Linked DNA regions of Homo sapiens. The protein of the gene in region 2 interacts with the protein of the main gene of each other region in a pairwise test. Each region holds a gene or a part of one and is shown on either strand. Other genes may lie near its edges. The genes, in order: THBS2, MMP2 and COL5A1.

Region 1 (7,118 bases), on a different chromosome or scaffold from region 2:
CACAAGTTTCTTTTGTCTCCCTCGTGAGTAGTGGTGACATAATTTCCAGGGCAGGAGTTGAGAAGAAATTCATGCGCTTCTGGCCTCCTGGCTCCTCTCTCAGCTCCCGCTTGAGATCGAGGACTGATGGGGCACGCTTCCTTCCTCGGCGCCATGCTGGTTTCATTTCACCTGCATTCCTGAAAGAGGCGCTTTCCTAAATGTTTTTCCAAGTATTCTTCCTTCTCCAATTGCAGGATAACTGCCCCCATCTGCCAAATTCTGGGCAGGAAGACTTTGACAAGGACGGGATTGGCGATGCCTGTGATGATGACGATGACAATGACGGTGTGACCGATGAGAAGGTAGGAGCAGCTTGTGCCGCGCACCTGCCCTGGGTTCCAGGAGCAGCGAGGTCCACAGGAGGCCACTTTATACCAAACAGCCCTTGTCAACGTAACTGCCATTGTCCTGCAAGCGTTTGTGCATAGGCAGTTCCCAAAGGTCACTATAAAGACAGTCCTTTGCAAAAGCGGATTTTACCTCAGTGCATGGGGCTGCCCAGGGTGTGCTGCCGGAAATGTTTTGAATAATTTTTTCTATTTTAACTGCAAAAAAATAGAAGACCTCCTCTCCTTCTGCTGAGGAGCCAGTGATGGGCAAGGCTGACACCACCATGAGTGATAGACTTGCCTTTATGGCAACATTTAAAATATTACCATTTTTCTAAGAAAATTGCTGCAAACACAAATGGTTTAATGTATTTGTACACAAAACAGCTCTAGCAAGAATAGATCAAGATTTTACTCACTGCTTTTTTACATCTGACTTTGATGGGAGACATTGACTCACTAATCCATTCATTTATTTGATATTTACATATCTCTCCTCACCATGAAGTGTATGATATACCATTTTTGCCTTAGCAATCTACAAATTTTCAACAAAAGACAGATGCATAAATAATGATAAAATGATTTGATATGGAAAAAGTGTTTGGCGAGGGCTAACTCTTTTTTTTTTTTTTTTTGGTCGCTCAGGCTTGAGTGCAATGGCATGATCTTGGCTCACTGCAATCTCCATCTTCTGGGTTCAAGCGATTCTCTTGCCTCAGTCTCCTGAGTAACTGGCATTACAGGCGCACACCACCACGCCCGGCTCATTTTTGTATTTTTAGGAGAGATGGGGTTTCACCATGTTGGCCAGGCTGGTCTCGAACTCCTGACCTCAGGTGACCCGCCTGCCTTGGCCTCCCAAAGTGCTGGGATTAATGGTGTGAGCCACTGTGCCCGGGCCTAACTGGCTTTTTAAAGCACTGGGATTAAAGGTGTGAGCCACTGCGCCCGGCCCTGGTCTTGAACTCCTGACCTCAGGTGATCCGCCCGCCTCAGCCTCCCATAGTGCTGGGATTAAAGGTGTGAGCCTCCGTGCCCTGCCCTGACTGGCTTTTTGAAGTGCTGGGATTACAGGTGTGAGCCACAGTGCCCAGCTGTGATTAAAGGTGTGAGCCACCGTCCAGCCCTAACTGGCTTTTGTGTTTGTTTGATTTCTATATTGATTTTCATCAACCTTGAGTACATAACTTATAAGTGCTAAACGGCCCGACACACATTCCTATGATCTTCGTTAAAGTCTTCCCTTTCTTGGTTTTCCAGGACAACTGCCAGCTCCTCTTCAATCCCCGCCAGGCTGACTATGACAAGGATGAGGTTGGGGACCGCTGTGACAACTGCCCTTACGTGCACAACCCTGCCCAGATCGACACAGACAACAATGGAGAGGGTGACGCCTGCTCCGTGGACATTGATGGGGACGGTGGGTGCTTCTGCTCCTTCCCATGCGTGCACTTTTTTTTTTTTTTTGAGATGGAGTTTCACTATTGTTGCCCAGGGCAGTAGCACCATCTTGGCTCACTGCGATCTCCACCTTTTGGGTTCAAGTGAGTCTCCTGCTTCAGCCTCCTGAGTAGCTGGGATCACAGGTGCACACCACCACGCCTAGCTAATTTTGTATTTTAAGTAGAGACGAGGTTTCACCATGTTGGCCAGGCTGGTCTCAAGCTCCTGACCTCAAATGATCCGCCTGCCTTGGCCTCCCAAAGTGCTGGGATTACAGGCGTGAGCCACCGCGCCCGGCCCAATGCATGCATTTTAAGGGTCGCAATTGGAGGCATTGGCAAGTTTCATGTTTTATTCTGAATTTTGATAAGCTCCTTTCATTTTTACACTACTATAAGATTAAATGATTCATTCAGTTATTCCCATAGGGACCCATGCTTATTCTGCCTTGCCTTTTCCTGAAGGTCAGGGGACACCAGCCACAGGACCGCCCTAGAGAAAGCTATGCATTTGGTATCCTCCTCTCTCTGACCCCAGCCTTGCAGTCCTGGGCCTCGTGCTTCTTCATGGCATCTTTTCTAATGTTCACCCTTCATTCAAAAATTCCAAGAAGCCATTTCATGTTTTCATCAAACTGAGCTTCTAGGAGTTAGAATAACGTGGGTGTATTGTGGTTACCTCTGCCACTGATCCCGGTTGCTGCTTTATCCGGAGAGTTCGCTGGCCTTGGTAAGCGAGCTCTGCAACCCAGTGCCACTGTCACCGCATGGTCATCCCTTCTCTTGGGGTGCCTGGAGACCAGGCGAGTGCTTCTGTAGAACCAGCAAGAGCTGGGGGCAGGCTCGCCTCCACGCTGGAGCTCGGCCCCAGCTCCTCCACACTTCGCCTCGTGGGGTCCTCTTCCCAGCCCGGCGCCAGCCACCCCCTTTCTGAGCCACCCCAACCTGCTGTTCTGTCTCACAGCGGGTTTCTCAGTCTGATCTTTTCCACTGATTTCTGCCTCCACCCTCCTCTCGTTCTCTGGGAATGTGGTGGGTTGCTGTCTGAGGGCTCGTGGTGGCCAGGGGGCTCCTCGGCTCCCCATCCAGGATGGCGTCTGTGATGTGCTGGATGCAGATCTCAAGCTCCAGTCCCTTCCATTTTTATTTTTTAGGTGTTCCTTACTTCCCTTCTCCAGACCTCACCTGACCAAAGCAAGGCGAGCGTCTCAGCTCAGTTCTGGCTCTTCCTGTGGACTCGCTGCCGTGTAACATTTTGCTCTGTCATTTGTGACACTGTCACTGATGGTATTGTTTAGTTCAGTGCTAGTTTATATTTTTGTAACTTCAGTATCAATGCAACTCATCACTTTCAGATTTCTTAAGATAAGATATGACATCTAAAAACCCTGCCACTCTCTGCCATTGTTTTTTTCCTACTCATGTGCATGGATGATAAACTCCTGGGAACTCAACACATACTTTCCAAGTGGGTATTAGGGAGAAATAAGCAATTTAGCAAGCTCAGATTTACACGGCGACAGCACATTCAACTACCCCTCCTGCAACATTACCCAGAAATCTCCAAAAGTTGGTTCTATTTCAAATGAAAGGTATTTGAACTGTAATGAAATATGTCATATGTTCTTCTAAAATCTAATAGTCTTTATATTTTACTATATTCTTAGGCGTCTTTTTATTATAATTAAATAGAAGTGTGGCTGTAAGCAATTTCGTGTGATAGGAAAAACAATGTGCTTTTTCTAAACTCACCTGTCCTTCTGGTTTGTTTTTGTTTTCTTCCCCCTTTAAACACTTACAGATGTCTTCAATGAACGAGACAATTGTCCCTACGTCTACAACACTGACCAGAGGGACACGGATGGTGACGGTGTGGGGGATCACTGTGACAACTGCCCCCTGGTGCACAACCCTGACCAGGTGAGGGCAGCCGCAGACAGGCGGGGTTGGAGGTCCTCATCAGAGGGACGCGGGGACGGTGGCGGTGTGGGGGATCACTGTGACAACTGCCCCTGGTGCACAACCCTGACCAGATGAGGGCAGCCATGGGCAGGCGGGTCTCAGGTCCTCATCAGTCCCCTCCATGGGGCCTTGGGAGTTTTCCATGAGCTCCACAAAGACAGGATAACATGGAGTTTTCAATGATTTCAATTGAAAACATTTATTCAACTCAAATCTCAGCACTATTCTTGTATCTCAGTGGCCACAGGCCAAATGAATAGACGCCTTCACCTCATCAGCTGGAGCGAGGTTGTGTCTTCACAGAATTCTCTCCCCATTTTCCTGATGCCAACATAGGAATTGGCTTCATTTCCAGGTTTGCGTTTGAAAGAGACAAGGGAGGACAGTTATCTTGATGCAGCTCATAGGATATATTATCCTATGATGTAAATGGTGTAAATGGCGCAAATGGTGTAAAAAAGAGACATAATTACCTGGTAGTTCATGCTTTTCCAGCGAAGAAGCACATCTTCCTTTAGTGAAGTGAATTACTGTGGAGAGGTGGCAGAGGGTGGAGAGATTCCTGGACCGAGAGGCCTGGCCCCAGTGCTTGTCCTGACGTCAGGGTCAGTGTGACCTCGGGCCAGCCGCCCCTGCGTGGCCCTGGGGCTTGTGCTGCAGGACGAGGAGGCCGGCTCTCAGGCTTGCGTCCTGCTGGTTCCTCTCCACCTCCTCAAACTGGCAGTCCTCTGCTGTTTCTCTCACGCCCCATCCCCTAGACCGACGTGGACAATGACCTTGTTGGGGACCAGTGTGACAACAACGAGGACATAGATGACGACGGCCACCAGAACAACCAGGACAACTGCCCCTACATCTCCAACGCCAACCAGGCTGACCATGACAGAGACGGCCAGGGCGACGCCTGTGACCCTGATGATGACAACGATGGCGTCCCCGATGACAGGGACAACTGCCGGCTTGTGTTCAACCCAGACCAGGAGGACTTGGACGGTGGGTGCTCTCTCAGCTCATGGGCGTGGAGGAAAATGGCTTCTGAGCAACCCGCCAGGGCAGAGATATGTATGCACGGAGATCATCTTAAATCTGCTGCTGGAAAAAGGGCAATGACTTTGGGCCTCTTAAAGCTGTGGGTCCATGCAATATGAGTTTCTTCTCCCCTGACACTCAACACATTCTTGGCTGTGTGTGTGCCCTTCAACAGGTGTGCTGCCTCAAGTGTGTGTGCACGTCGGGAGGAGGAGAAATCCCTGCCTCCATATAACTTCCAGATTGTTGACGATCTCCTAGAAAGAATGCGGGTTACGAACGTAGGATGAATTGGGAATTTGGTGTATGGGGCCAGGCAGGGGACAAGGAGGATTTTTTTGAAAGCAAAGCCAACAAAAGTGGCACGAGTGTGAAGCATGAGAGGAAGAGCTGCTTTGCTCAGCAGTGAGCATGAATAGGTGGCCCATAGCCACGGGGGCCCAAGGAAGGAGCTGGATGGGCTGCAGTCCTCTAAGTCAGCGTCCCTGAGTAATAAACAAGGGCACAGCTGTGCTCTGGGGCTTCCGGGGAGGCTGTGAGAAAGTGGCCCTCACTTGGAGTGGGGCCTGGCTGACACAGGCTCTCTTTGGAAGCCACGTCCTTGACAGAGGGAGATAAGGACTTGAGGGGCATCTGAGACAGCATGACTCAGAAGTACGTGGGAGATGCTGGGATCAGAAGGGCAGCTCCTGTGTTCTCCCCGAGCAGCATGAAGGGATGGAGTGAGCACAGCAAGCCTCATCTGGACTCCGTGTTCGGGCATGCAGGGGCTTGCTCCCCATGCAGCCTTTCCCCAGGGAGGGACTGGGACAGAGAGAAGCTGATAGGCAGAGCAGCATTTCAGCATTTCAGAATGCCCTGATACCAACTATGTGCCTGCCACGTGGTAGCTGGAGTATGTTCTTGAACAGAACGGAAACTAGTTGAAGAATATGATGAGATATTCAATCCAACTTGCCTTTCCTCCAAAACGGCAGGCCACGTGATAGCTAATTCAGTACATTGCAATCTGCCTGTCAGGTTATCGTCATCGCCGTAGACTGATAGACTGGACACATGTGGCAAATTCGTGGTCCCCCTGTTTGCACCAGGCCCACCTCATCCCCACTCCCCACCATGCCACAACCCCGCTGAAAACTTGACAAGGACCCACTAAACAGCGGAAGTCCATGTCTCCCTAGGAAAAACCATTTTAGTGTGAGTTCCGCTTTAATGCCAAATAGACTATAAAAGGCAAGGATGACTAAGAAAAGTAATAACAGACATTCAGAAAACTATCCAAACACAAAGCTGGAAATGCAGGTTGATATTACTTGACAGCCATTCAGGTTTTATACCTGCAGCATTGAGTTTGGAACACGGTGAGAAATGGCTTTATGTGAATTTGCTGTGCTGGCCTTTGCTGTGTATTTATCACAAAAATTTTGTGAAAAGAGTTGAGGTTCCTGTGAAGTCAAATGTTTTGGAGATTGTTGAGCACGAATCCACAAAACACTGCAAAGCACTCAGTCTTAGATGTTCTGGGAAAGATGCACTCATGTTTCTCAGACACGGAAAAGCAAATGGCAAACCACCGACCACCGACTTTGCTTCTTTGTTTTTGTTTTTGTTTTTGCTTGTTCTTTGTGCATAGGTGATGGACGGGGTGATATTTGTAAAGATGATTTTGACAATGACAACATCCCAGATATTGATGATGTGTGTCCTGAAAACAATGCCATCAGTGAGACAGACTTCAGGAACTTCCAGATGGTCCCCTTGGATCCCAAAGGGACCACCCAAATTGATCCCAACTGGGTCATTCGCCATCAAGGCAAGGAGCTGGTTCAGACAGCCAACTCGGACCCCGGCATCGCTGTAGGTGAGTCTCTGAGACACGGCGGTGGTGCCAGCATTTCTCCGGGGGAGGCGCCCACAGAAGATGCAGACTGCACTTTAAGATCATGCAGGTGGGATGCCATGTGGTCTTTCTGGAAGCCCCCATCCTTCCATGGTCTGTGAAACTGTCTGCCTAAATAACCTTGACAGGTACATGCACCTGCCGCTCTGAAGTCTCTGAAATTTCAGTAAACCATTTTATTTTATAGACTTGGTCTATGAAATGGGACCTCATAATCCTCTCAGAACTCTTGTAAGTTGGATCTAAAAGAAATACCTTCAATTCCACTAATCTCATGGTAAAAGAGCCCATCGGGATGATGAGGGGAGCCCGCCCTGCCTGCTGGGCATCCACTGTCAGATGGTCACAGGGCCAAGCTGGGGATTGCCTGAAACCTGTTTCTTTTTTTTTTCTTTTTTTTCTTTTTTTTTT
Region 2 (7,118 bases):
GCTCCCTGAACCTCTGCAGGGACCTGCTCAGTTTGGGCCTCAGTTTGGGCAGGGCCAGTTGTATGACTCATGAAGGACAGGACTACTTTCTTTTTGCAAATGGCTGATTCAGGATTTAAACCCAGGTCTGTCTACTGCCAGAGCCCATGCACATAGTCCTTGAATCTCTTTAGAAGAAAACAGGAGGAAAAAAGTCCCCAAGTCACCAGCCGCAAGGTAGATAAATGAGTTGATAGAGGTAAAGGAAGGATGCTGGAGTATAATGATTCCATATCACAGCCTCTGGAGCCAGATTGCTTTGTCCCAAATCCAGATCTACCATTTGTGAACTGTGTGATCGTAAGCAAGTTTCTTAACCTCTCTGTGCTTCAGTTTCCTCCTCTGTATAATAGGGTTAGTATATCTACATTACAGAGTTTTGAGCATTAAATGAGTTAACATATTCTGACTTTAGTGCCTGGACATATAGTCAGCACCCAGCACCAACAAGTGGTAGCCATGCTCTCTATAGCTGTATGTCCTGTCGCTCAACTAATGGGTGACCGTGCTGGTTTGGGAACCCAGTACTCCACCCAGTGCTCTGGGACCCCTGGCTTATTTCCTGTCTGGACTATGGCACTGGGTTGGGGGGCTGATTGCTACAGCCTGCTTTGGTCAGTACTGTGCCATCCTAATGTGGCTAATTGCCTTGGGGGTGTGCATTTCTTTCAGCAATACCTGAACACCTTCTATGGCTGCCCCAAGGAGAGCTGCAACCTGTTTGTGCTGAAGGACACACTAAAGAAGATGCAGAAGTTCTTTGGACTGCCCCAGACAGGTGATCTTGACCAGAATACCATCGAGACCATGCGGAAGCCACGCTGCGGCAACCCAGATGTGGCCAACTACAACTTCTTCCCTCGCAAGCCCAAGTGGGACAAGAACCAGATCACATACAGGTGCCGGGGCAGGGCTTGGGGAGGCAGGGCCATGGGGCTGAGGGACACGAGTCTCCTTGACCCATGCATTCTCTCCACTCAGGGGATCCATGAGGTGTCTTTTGTGAAGGCTTGACATCTTAGGGAGTTTCAATACACAGTTCTTAGAAAATGAAGTCAGACAGACTTGAGTTTCATACTTGCTGGCCATGAGACATTGGGTTACTTTTCAGTGCTGTGAATGTTGGCTTTCCAATCTACAAAATGGGGCTTAAAAAATGCCCTTATATGGTATGTTGGGGAACTAAGCTAGGCTGAACTAATACAAACGGCTTCTATGATTTTTGACACAGAGCAAGAGTGTAGTAATGCTAGTCATTGTTATTGTTTTTAGATGAGGTCATTGGGATGGGCAGAAGGAACGTGATGATTGGTAGCTAATTGGGTTTAGCAGCCCAATTGGGTTATAACTGGTTGCTAATTGGGCCAAGAGCTGTGCTCTGTATGGGTGGTGCTGGGTTCCAATGGTGGGATCTTTGCCCTGTGCCCCATAATGCACTACTTATGGCCCTCCCCCACCAGCCAGAAGTGACAGATGGAACTCCTGAGCTGGGGCCTAAAAATGTTGGCTGGCCTGGGACTCCCTGGGTCTTCAAGGCATTCTGGGAGGGTTGTCCTTGGCAGTGAGCCCTGCCCAGCCTACACACACATACACGCAGGCACATGCTCACATATACATACACATACCTGTGCACCCTTCCCGTGCTTGTGCATATACTTGTATGTTCACATACACACACACACTCAAACTTTTTCATACATCTGTGCACACACACATACTTGCATATACATACACTTATGCACATGCATACACACTCACATGCAGTTCTACCACCTCCAGGATCATTGGCTACACACCTGATCTGGACCCAGAGACAGTGGATGATGCCTTTGCTCGTGCCTTCCAAGTCTGGAGCGATGTGACCCCACTGCGGTTTTCTCGAATCCATGATGGAGAGGCAGACATCATGATCAACTTTGGCCGCTGGGGTAGGCAGAAGATGGGGCAGAAGAGGGGCCAGCAGGGATCAGTGTTGAGACGAGGGGGTGAGATGGACATTAGAGGGGCGTGGGGATCCTAAGGGCGGCTTAGATAGGACAGTAGATGGTGTGGGCCCTGGGGGTGGTTTAGATGGGGGCAGCACAACACGGAGTGGACACTGGAGAGCCACGTTGACATGGGGGCAGATGGTGTGTTGTGGTATAACCTGGAGGCCGTCTAAACCCGAAGCAAGTGGTCTACTGTGCTGTCCAATATGGCAGCCATTAGGCAGAATATACATGGCTGTTTAAATTTAAATTAGTTAAAAATTTTAAATTAGTTTCCTGGTCACACTGGGCACATTTTAAGTGCTCAAAAGACACAGGAGGCTAGTGACTATTGATTTTGGACAGCACAGACAAAGAATATTCCTCTTAATCACAGAAAGCTCTGTTGGATGATGCTGGTAGACACTGAGGAACTGTAGATATATGAGAGTGGTTTGGAAACAGTGGAGCAGTGTAGACACTAGAGGAAGGGTCGTAGAACCTGGGGCCAGGTGGCCATGTGAGTTTATGGTGTGAACACTGCCAGTAGCACAGACATAAAGGTATGTGGTATAGACACTGAGTGGTAAGTGATGAAGGTAAAGAGCAGGGGAAACAATGTAGACAAGTGGGTGGGTGGTACAGGCCTTGGTGACAAGGTGGGCATGAGGATTCATGTTGCAGATATTGGTGATAGTGTGACATGAAGGCAGGATTGTGGTTAAGAGGGCAGTATTGACAGGATGGAGGATGGCATAGACACTGGGGATGATGAAGATGGGGTGAGGACACTAGTGTGGTAATGTGGGTATGTGGTACATATAGTGTCATGGTGGTAGAGTAGACAATGGAGGTAGAGGGTATGGATACTGGGAGTCATGTAAACCTGGGAGAGCAGTGTAGACCATAGGATGGTAACAACCAGGTCAGCAGATCTCTACTGAGCTCCTGTTGACAGTCCTGGATAACCCCACTGGGACAAGGGAAGGGGACAGATGCTGGGTGGGCTGACAGGCTCCACATGTAGATGGGGTGTGGAGGGGTTTCAGGGTCTAGGTGGCACAGCTAGACGCTAAGACCCAGTGTGTGTTTCAGAGCATGGCGATGGATACCCCTTTGACGGTAAGGACGGACTCCTGGCTCATGCCTTCGCCCCAGGCACTGGTGTTGGGGGAGACTCCCATTTTGATGACGATGAGCTATGGACCTTGGGAGAAGGCCAAGGTGAGAAAGGGGCCCTCTGCATGCCCCAGACCTTCTCTCCTGTCCTCTCTCCACTCCATTTGCTTGGACCAGAGAGGTGGGAGGGGAGGAAAGTCACACATCTGGGTGAGTCAGAATCTTGGTCTCCAAAGAAGGCCTGGAGAAGTCCAACCTCCCCCTTCCATGTCACTCTTTAGTGGTCCGTGTGAAGTATGGGAACGCCGATGGGGAGTACTGCAAGTTCCCCTTCTTGTTCAATGGCAAGGAGTACAACAGCTGCACTGATACCGGCCGCAGCGATGGCTTCCTCTGGTGCTCCACCACCTACAACTTTGAGAAGGATGGCAAGTACGGCTTCTGTCCCCATGAAGGTGAGCATCCACTCTAGTCCCCAAGACTTTCCACCCCAAGCCTCCAGCTTCCCGGGCTCCCCAGTGTGCTCTTCCCTCCACACTCTCCAGGACTGGCTGCCACTGCCAGTTAATGAGCATCCCTCCAACGTCCTTCACTCAGTTCCCCCCCATCCTGATCTGAGCCATTGCTGTTTCTCTCCCACCAGTACCATGATGAACGTAGTACTCTAATTAAATCAAGTTGATTTTTTTTAAGTTTCACCATTAGCAATCATTTAGGAAGTCACAGATTTGATTTGCTAATTATTTATTTCTAATATATATTGGAGTGAACTTAGAACTATTACAATGCCCAGTGGTTCTCTCTAGAACCAGTCTTTACACTTCAGTCAAGATTGATACTTCAAGGGCATGAGGAAAGGCTTGCTGGTAGCTGGAAACCTAGCAGTGTGATAGGGAGGCAGGACTCAGACCAGGGCTGGACTCAACCTGGTTTGCGTACTCCAACTGAGGAATTTCAGCTATTGCTCCTGCCTTGGTCCTGATGCTGCCTCTGCTAATGCGTGTGTGTGTGTGTGTGTGTGTGCCTGTGTGTGTGTGTGTGTGTGTGTGTGTGTGTGTGTGTGTGTGTCTGGGCACGGGGGCTATACTATCTGCCTCTCTTGGGCACTGTCTTTTTCTGCCTCCTGTCTAGCTTGTGTCTGCATCTCTGTGTCTTGATAAAGACTTTAGGCTTGACTCAGTATTTGTGTTTGTGTGCTTGTCAGTGCCTGAGATGCAACATTTCAGAGATTTTGAAGCCACATGGGGGAAATCTTTTAAAATGGGGTACAGATATTGACATACACACTCAATCCTTTTTAAAAATATCCTTGACACACTTAATAGTCATAAATCACAAAAAGACAATGTAACTTCATACTCTATGAAGTCATCATATTTGATAATTCTGCAGATTGAAAGCCCAGAAAACCTGGCGAAAATGGAAAAAAGTCTAAAAATTTTTAACACTATCTTCTTTCCCATGTCACAAAGACTCTATAGTCTACATAGACTAAAGACTGTCTTTTTGTCTGTAATTTTATGTCTGTGAATCTCCCTAACCCCACTGTAACTGAAAACTAAGCACCAACCATCTTGACAGAATGAAAGAAACAAAGAGCTAGTTAATTCCCTTCCTGTTTATGCTTTTACTACCAGAGCTAAACTTTATATTAAGTAAGAGTTTAAGCCATTCACCATTAATAAGTCAGACATTTTGAAATAAAAATATTTTTTGTATCTTGCGTTTCCCGGTAGGGATTACATGTGGCGTTAACCCTTCCCTGTGTCACCCCTCTGATAGGAACAGAAAGCTTTGGTGATAGTTAGATGTGGAAACAGCTGTATTTCATAAATTTGGGAAGGGTTATTCCCTGCATTGGACATTAGCCATTTACTTTGTGCTTAGCCAGATGCAAGTACGCACAACACGCACGTGTCTGGGTCTCGAGGCAGAGATTGTTGTTACTCAGCCCCTGCTGATGGCTGAGTCAGTGTCTGATTCTTGCCATCCTTGTCAGGGGAATTTGGGAGGAGACAGGGGCTTCCTGGGTGGTAGAAATGAGAGGTCAGAGGCAGGGGGCTGGCATTGGTCGAAGTTAACGCTTTGCCTTTCTCAACTCTGAGGCCACTAAGGTATCTGGACTCAGTCTTGCCTTTTCTCTAGGTGCCATTGTTTCTGGCATTGCAGGACAAGGTCTTTTGGTAGAGAGGGGAGTGGTGAGGATACAGGGCCTCGAGTTCTGTGGTGGGAGGCCAGGGACTGGGCTCCATTCCGGCCATGGTGGAGTTAACGGGGGCTGGTGAGGTCACCTCTGGCGCCGTTGTGCACAGATGGTCCTTGTTATGGACTTGTGGTTTTGCTGGTTGGCAATTCCAGAGACACCATTTTTTAGCTTTGGGTGGATGAGGGGAGGATGGGGAGAATCCAAGACAGACAGGCCAGGCTCTGAACCCCACTCCCTCCCCCAACTCTCCATTTATGGCCCCTGTCTTGAAGATGTCAAAGTAGGAGCCCAGAGTGTTTAGTAAAAGGGACCTGAAGGCACCACCTCCCTCTCCCTCCCTCCTCCTCTTCATTCTTTCTCTCCTTCCTACAGAGACTGCAACAAGGCCATCCAGGAAGGGGCCTGGGGTTGACAGGAGGTAAAGCAAGCTTTCTGTGTATGCGTGTGCACGCACACACACATATATGAGAGTGACAGACTAAGCAAGAGAGATTGAGATTAGTGTGTTTTGTAGTTTTTAGTTACAACCTTCATTCACTTCTTTCATTTCTGTGACCATGAGCAGTTTGAGAACCATCTTTGTCCTAGCCTTGATTTCTCCACCTATCAAATGGAGAGAGATTCTCGTGGTCCTGCCTGCCATGACTGATATATTCATGTCATACATCATTATTACATGAAATTTGCATGGTACAGGTGTGGACCAGGCAGAATGGACAGTGCCCTTGGGGCTGAGGCAGGGTTCTAGAAGCCCTTGCTGTGTGCCAGGTGTCAATCATTTTGTTGTTGGGTGGTCCACAAGGTCCCACGGGAGGGATTGGGATAACCAGGGAAGCAGGGGTTCTCTCTGGGAGCTCAGAGAAGCAGCTCCTTACCAACCAGTAGAGATGTTTTCTTAATATTTTAACAATGCATCAACTTCACTGGTGTGAACCGGCAGGTGGGCAGCCAGCCAGCCCTGTGCCCATGGAAGCATGTCTCATTCACATCCTTCCCTCTCTCCCCCACCCTTAGCCCTGTTCACCATGGGCGGCAACGCTGAAGGACAGCCCTGCAAGTTTCCATTCCGCTTCCAGGGCACATCCTATGACAGCTGCACCACTGAGGGCCGCACGGATGGCTACCGCTGGTGCGGCACCACTGAGGACTACGACCGCGACAAGAAGTATGGCTTCTGCCCTGAGACCGGTGGGTGCCACTCCCTCTCCCTCCCTCAGGGCCCAGCACCTGCTGTCTGACAAAAAAAAAACCCATAAGACTCCGAGTGCCCACCTCCTTTCCCCAAGACAGGGGTGCTAAGACATCTGTGCGAATGACATCCACACCAAGATGTCCGTGTAGCTAGTCAGGATACTTGTCACCTGGTATGGCCTGGGCACTGAAATCAGAACAGACATTGGGCATCAACAGTTGAATTGGTGACACTTAAATGTCAGGCCTGCTCAGGATCCTCTGACCGACCTGCATCCCTTTTCTCTCAGGCTCTCTGGCAGAGACTTCTCTCTCCTCCTCTCTGACCCTGCAATCTCTCTTCCCTGCCTTTCCTGGTCTGTATCTCCACCTTTTAGTCTGTTTTTTATTAAGAGCTCCGTGCTTTCCTCCCTGTCTCCTTCCTGCCCTCCTCTCTATCCCTCCCTCCTTTCCTTCTTCCCTTCCTCCAACAGGAATTTACTGAGCGCCTGCTTTGTGCAGCATACACAGAGGTTGGTCTCTGCAAAGCCCTGCCCAAGGGGGCTCACAGCTGAGGGGCATGTGCTGGTGCCATCAGCTTCATCCAACTCCCTTTG
Region 3 (4,659 bases), on a different chromosome or scaffold from region 2:
CTGTGAGCAGGTTGCTGGCAAGGCAGGCTCTGGTGAGCTCCCCTCTGGGCTGCAGATAGCAGCTTCTCACTACACCCTCACAGGGTGGAGTCTCTCGGGTGCCTCTTTTATAGGGGCACTAATACCACTCATGGGGTTCCACCCTCAGGACCTCCTCAACTCCCATCGAACGGCCCCACCTCCTAATACCATCTTTGGGAACGGGAACATTAAGATCATAGTCAGGGAGAATAAGGCCCTTCAAGGCCACGCCCTCCCCATAGGTCAGGGAGCAGAATACCGGGAGAGCTGGAGCTGCTGTCTGCTATCCGAATCTCCGGCCTGGGAGTCTGCGCTGGGCCCTCTGCAGGGCTGCATCCTGGGGTCACTGCCTCCCATCCGGGAGGGAACCCTGGCTGGCCCCTACTTGTTTATCTGATCATTTCTTTTGGGGATGGGGCAGTGGAAGGAGATCCTTCCCAGGCCCAGATCCAGCTGCGACTGTAAATCCAGTCTGGGTCTGAGGTAGCAAAAGCCATCTGCCCAGGATGCGTTTGCAGGCTCCTGGTTTGCGGGAAAGGTGCGGCCTCCAGGGCCCTTGTCTTGGGGGAAGTTGACGGGACAGCAGGGCCAGCTCAGCCTCAGTTATAAAGAACACTGGGAGTTATATTTGGGTGGCTTTGGGGAGGGACCAAAGAATCTCACACCTGCGCTGCCTGTGTTCTGGGAGGGAGGCGGCCTCTCCTAGGCTTCCATCCCACATCCCAGCGCCCAGGGTTGTGCTGTTTTGAGCAAGGGATGGGTGCTGACTCATCCTGCAGGCCAGGTTCATTGCACTACCCCTGCCCTCTGTGCCTCAGTTTACCTAAGACTCCTCTAGACCAGATGGTGTGGAAGGTCCCCACCCCTTCCCATACTTGTGGAGGTGAAGACCCAGCCCACCGAGTGCCTAAGGCAGTGTGTGGCAGGTGGTCGTAGGGGGGTCTTACTTGGCTCAAGGCTCTGCCGGTGCCGCCTCGGACTCCTTCCTTTTCGAACCTGGAGCCCCCGTTTGATTTTCCAGTGTGCCCTGCTTGTTCTGTAGCTGGCCCTGGGTCCTGGGGAGGCTGCCTGGAAGTGAATACCTGGGGCATCACAAGGAGTCTGGACTGGGCACGGTGGGAAGGCTGATCAGCTTCAATCCTGTGTGTGCCTCAGCCACCCCTGAAGCCTTGGGAGGGTCCTGTCGCCTCGCTGATGCCCACACCACCCCACCTCCGACCTGTGCAGGGGGACTCTTGGGACATCCACCGGGGTTAAATGCATGCTCTGATCAGCCATATTTCCTCCAACACTTGCCCGGGCAAGCGCAGCCCTGGGTAGGAGACAGGACACCAGCCTGGGTTTTGGAGCCAGACAGATTGTGGGGGGTGATTGGTAAACCCCAAGACCCCCAACTGTTCTTAACCACCGGCCATCTGTCTCCCTCTTCCCCAGACCAAGAAAGGCTACCAGAAGACGGTTCTGGAGATCGACACCCCCAAAGTGGAGCAGGTGCCCATCGTGGACATCATGTTCAATGACTTCGGTGAAGCGTCACAGAAATTTGGATTTGAAGTGGGGCCGGCTTGCTTCATGGGCTAGGAGCCGCCGAGCCCGGGCTCCCGAGAGCAACCTCGTGACCTCAGCATGCCATTCGTTCGTGAGTGTCCCGTGCACGTCCTGACCCTGGACAGTGAAGGCTTCTCCCTCCCCTCCCACCTGACTTCATCTACGCCTCGGCACCACGGGGTGTGGGACCCCAGCCCGGAGAGAACAGAGGGAAGGAGCCGCGCCCCCACCTGGAGCTGAATCACATGACCTAGCTGCACCCCAGCGCCTGGGCCCGCCCCACGCTCTGTCCACACCCACGCGCCCCGGGAGCGGGGCCATGCCTCCAGCCCCCCAGCTCGCCCGACCCATCCTGTTCGTGAATAGGTCTCAGGGGTTGGGGGAGGGACTGCCAGATTTGGACACTATATTTTTTTCTAAATTCAACTTGAAGATGTGTATTTCCCCTGACCTTCAAAAAATGTTCCAAGGTAAGCCTCGTAAAGGTCATCCCACCATCACCAAAGCCTCCGTTTTTAACAACCTCCAACACGATCCATTTAGAGGCCAAATGTCATTCTGCAGGTGCCTTCCCGATGGATTAAAGGTGCTTATGTTTTTGTGAGTTTTAAGTAAATATTTGTATTGTATTGTTATAAATGTTAAGTGTGCCTGGCTTTCAATCATGCACGGAAACCCAGTCTCAGTCCCACGGACAGAATGGGCGAGGCATGGATTCTGGGTTGCAGTACCGTTCTGATTAGAAATAGGAAGTCTCCCCACCCCCGCCCTGGCCAAGAACGTGCAATAAATTGGAAGTTTGCCCCGGGGCAGCAAGAATTTATGCTGCCATTGAAAAGCAGGTACCAGTGCCCCTTTTCAGACAGTTTTTGATTCGCTCTAGACTTTTTTTTTTTTTAATAGGGAAAAAATTTGATAATTTTCTTTTTTCTACATGCACTTAAGACTAAAACACAGGTTTGGATTAATTTTATTTGCTTCCTTTTTCCGCTTTTCTTCCCGCAGAGCCTGATGGGAGAATGTCCAGGGCAGGGAAACCACATTTTTTGTAGGTGATAACTCAATGAAAATTGGTGCTTATTTTTTACACTTCTCTCTTGTGGCTCTCTTGTGGTGCTATCTATCTGTTTTAAGGTCTCCTTGAAGGCGCACTGGGGACCCTGGCCATGCCTCGTTCTCCCTGCTTTCTTTATCCTGTTATTGCCTCCACAGTCTGTTGCCAAGGACTCTAAGATCAATGCACGTCACTTTCCTTTCCACTGGGCAGGATAGCCAAGCACACTCCCTCCTGCGCTCTCCCGCCCCGGTGCGTCCACTCCCGAGGGCTGTTATGAGGACTGGGTTGTGCCTACTTGATTTGAAAACACACACAAGCAATAAAAAGCCTCTTCCTGCATTGTCTGTGGTGTGACCATAGCAGATTATATTTGGTTCCTGAATGTTTGTGGTGCTAATTTCTGTGTTTGTTCCAAGCCGTTCAGTCATGCCATGCGCTGCCTCGGTAGATGGAGTAATGTACAATGAACTCCATGAGTCTCTCCAGGGCTGCCTGCAGCACGTCTTTTCCAAGTAGCCTATTTGGATTCCCATCTCAAATGTCCTGGATGCGAGCGTCAGCGGCTCCAGAGCTCGGGGCGGGTGAGGTCCCCTTTGGGGAACCCTTTCCTGGCCATCGAGGTCGGGGGGCTGCCGTCTGTGGGCAGGAGGACCCGAGGGGCAGCCAGGAAAGGCGATCTCTTCACTGTGAAAAGTTGCCCGGGTGCAGCGCCTTTTCCTTCTACCATGGGAAATGCAGGCTGGGCCCTTGGGGTGAGCCTGCGGGGCTCTGGTGCTGTCCCCGACCCCCACCACCACCAGAATGCAGTTCCAGCTTAGGAAGCCACAAACAAGCCACCCAGGAGGAACAAAACACCGCCAGCGTGGATTTTCCAAATTTCCCTGGAAAGTAAGTCTCGCTCTTGCCAAAGAAAAGTCTGGCTTGGAGAGTCTCTGGAGCCCAGGATGCCAGCATGTGCCAATGACTGTCACCTTCATCTCTTCAAAAGAAAAGCCATAGCCGAGGACTGTCCCGCGACCCCCGTGGACTGCGTCTAGGTCATGTGATTCTGTTTTCATTTCTCATCCCATCCAATTTGTCCTTTTCTCCTGTCATTTTCTTCCTCTGTGGTCCCTTCAAAGTTGTTATAATTTGTACTGAACTTCAAAATGTGTCCCGTTCTCCCCAGACCACTCTAGCCACAGTATATTGCAATAAAATTACTTCTTATATTTGCAGAAATTCTTTTGGTGTAATTTTATTTTTTCCTCTCAATATATATAATTGGACAAACGCTGGCAAAAAGAAAAAAATGGTAAGCAAAAAACCCAAGATAAAGTTTCGAGGACATCAGGCCTTTTGAAATACAATGTCAAATGACACATTGTACGGTTTCAAAAAATCCGCTAGACATGTCATAAGTTTTAACTGTAATGCCCAGGAAAGGATATCTTAAAATATTCTAAACTTGTGTAACAAAGGAATAATTAACTGTAATAGTTTTTCAATAAATCGAGTTGGGTGTTTCCACCGTAAACAGATGTGAGTGACTCTCTTCTTAAGTGTGGCCAGGCCCCTCCCAGACAGGACTGCACACAGTCCCAGGACGCTAGGAGCTCTGGAGATAACCACACTGGCCACCCAGAGAAAGGAAGGGATGGCCCCGGCTGTCCTTAGGTGGAGCTTGTCCCTCAGGAGTGGCCAAGGCTGGCATGGACAGCTTTGTGCCCTTGGGAGGATGTTAGAACGTAACCGGGCACTAGCCCGAGAAGTGAGTTTCAGCCACTGCTGGGTGTCCACACCACCGTGTACTGTCCTCACTCTTCACTCCTGGCAGTCAGCACCCTGCGAGAATGTTCTTGAAGCTCTCCAGCACTGCCCTTCCAGCTGTGTAGCAGGATTAGACTCCCTAGCTCCTTGTGGCTAGAGGTCGGGGAAGGCACGGGGCTCGTTGCAGCCGATGACCTTGAGCCCACGTGGCATTCGCCTCTTCCGGTCTGAAGGTGTGGTTCCCTCGGGCACAGCACCAGCCATGTTTCGTGGAGGGGCTACGT

Evidence for each region.
Region 1: the proteins of MMP2 (region 2) and THBS2 interact in a two-hybrid assay, tested with the Homo sapiens proteins (one study listed by BioGRID).
Region 3: the proteins of MMP2 (region 2) and COL5A1 interact in binary tests that used the Homo sapiens proteins (3 or more experiments, as listed by UniProt).

The regions. Positions count from the first base shown.
Region 1 is NC_000006.12:169,222,798-169,229,915, reverse strand, and holds part of THBS2 (thrombospondin-2 isoform 1 precursor), read left to right. Parts: intron 1-236; coding exon 237-344; intron 345-1,634; coding exon 1,635-1,794; intron 1,795-3,617; coding exon 3,618-3,736; intron 3,737-3,961; exon of another isoform or gene 3,962-4,121; intron 4,122-4,251; exon of another isoform or gene 4,252-4,536; coding exon 4,537-4,771; intron 4,772-6,440; coding exon 6,441-6,668; intron 6,669-7,118. UniProt on the Homo sapiens protein: Adhesive glycoprotein that mediates cell-to-cell and cell-to-matrix interactions. Ligand for CD36 mediating antiangiogenic properties.
Region 2 is NC_000016.10:55,482,198-55,489,315, forward strand, and holds part of MMP2 (72 kDa type IV collagenase isoform 1 preproprotein), read left to right. Parts: intron 1-711; coding exon 712-938; intron 939-1,818; coding exon 1,819-1,967; intron 1,968-3,101; coding exon 3,102-3,230; intron 3,231-3,406; coding exon 3,407-3,580; intron 3,581-6,345; coding exon 6,346-6,519; intron 6,520-7,118.
Region 3 is NC_000009.12:134,840,702-134,845,360, forward strand, and holds the end of COL5A1 (collagen alpha-1(V) chain isoform 1 preproprotein), read left to right. Parts: intron 1-1,455; coding exon 1,456-1,602; 3' UTR 1,603-4,142; downstream 4,143-4,659. UniProt on the Homo sapiens protein: Type V collagen is a member of group I collagen (fibrillar forming collagen). It is a minor connective tissue component of nearly ubiquitous distribution. Type V collagen binds to DNA, heparan sulfate, thrombospondin, heparin, and insulin.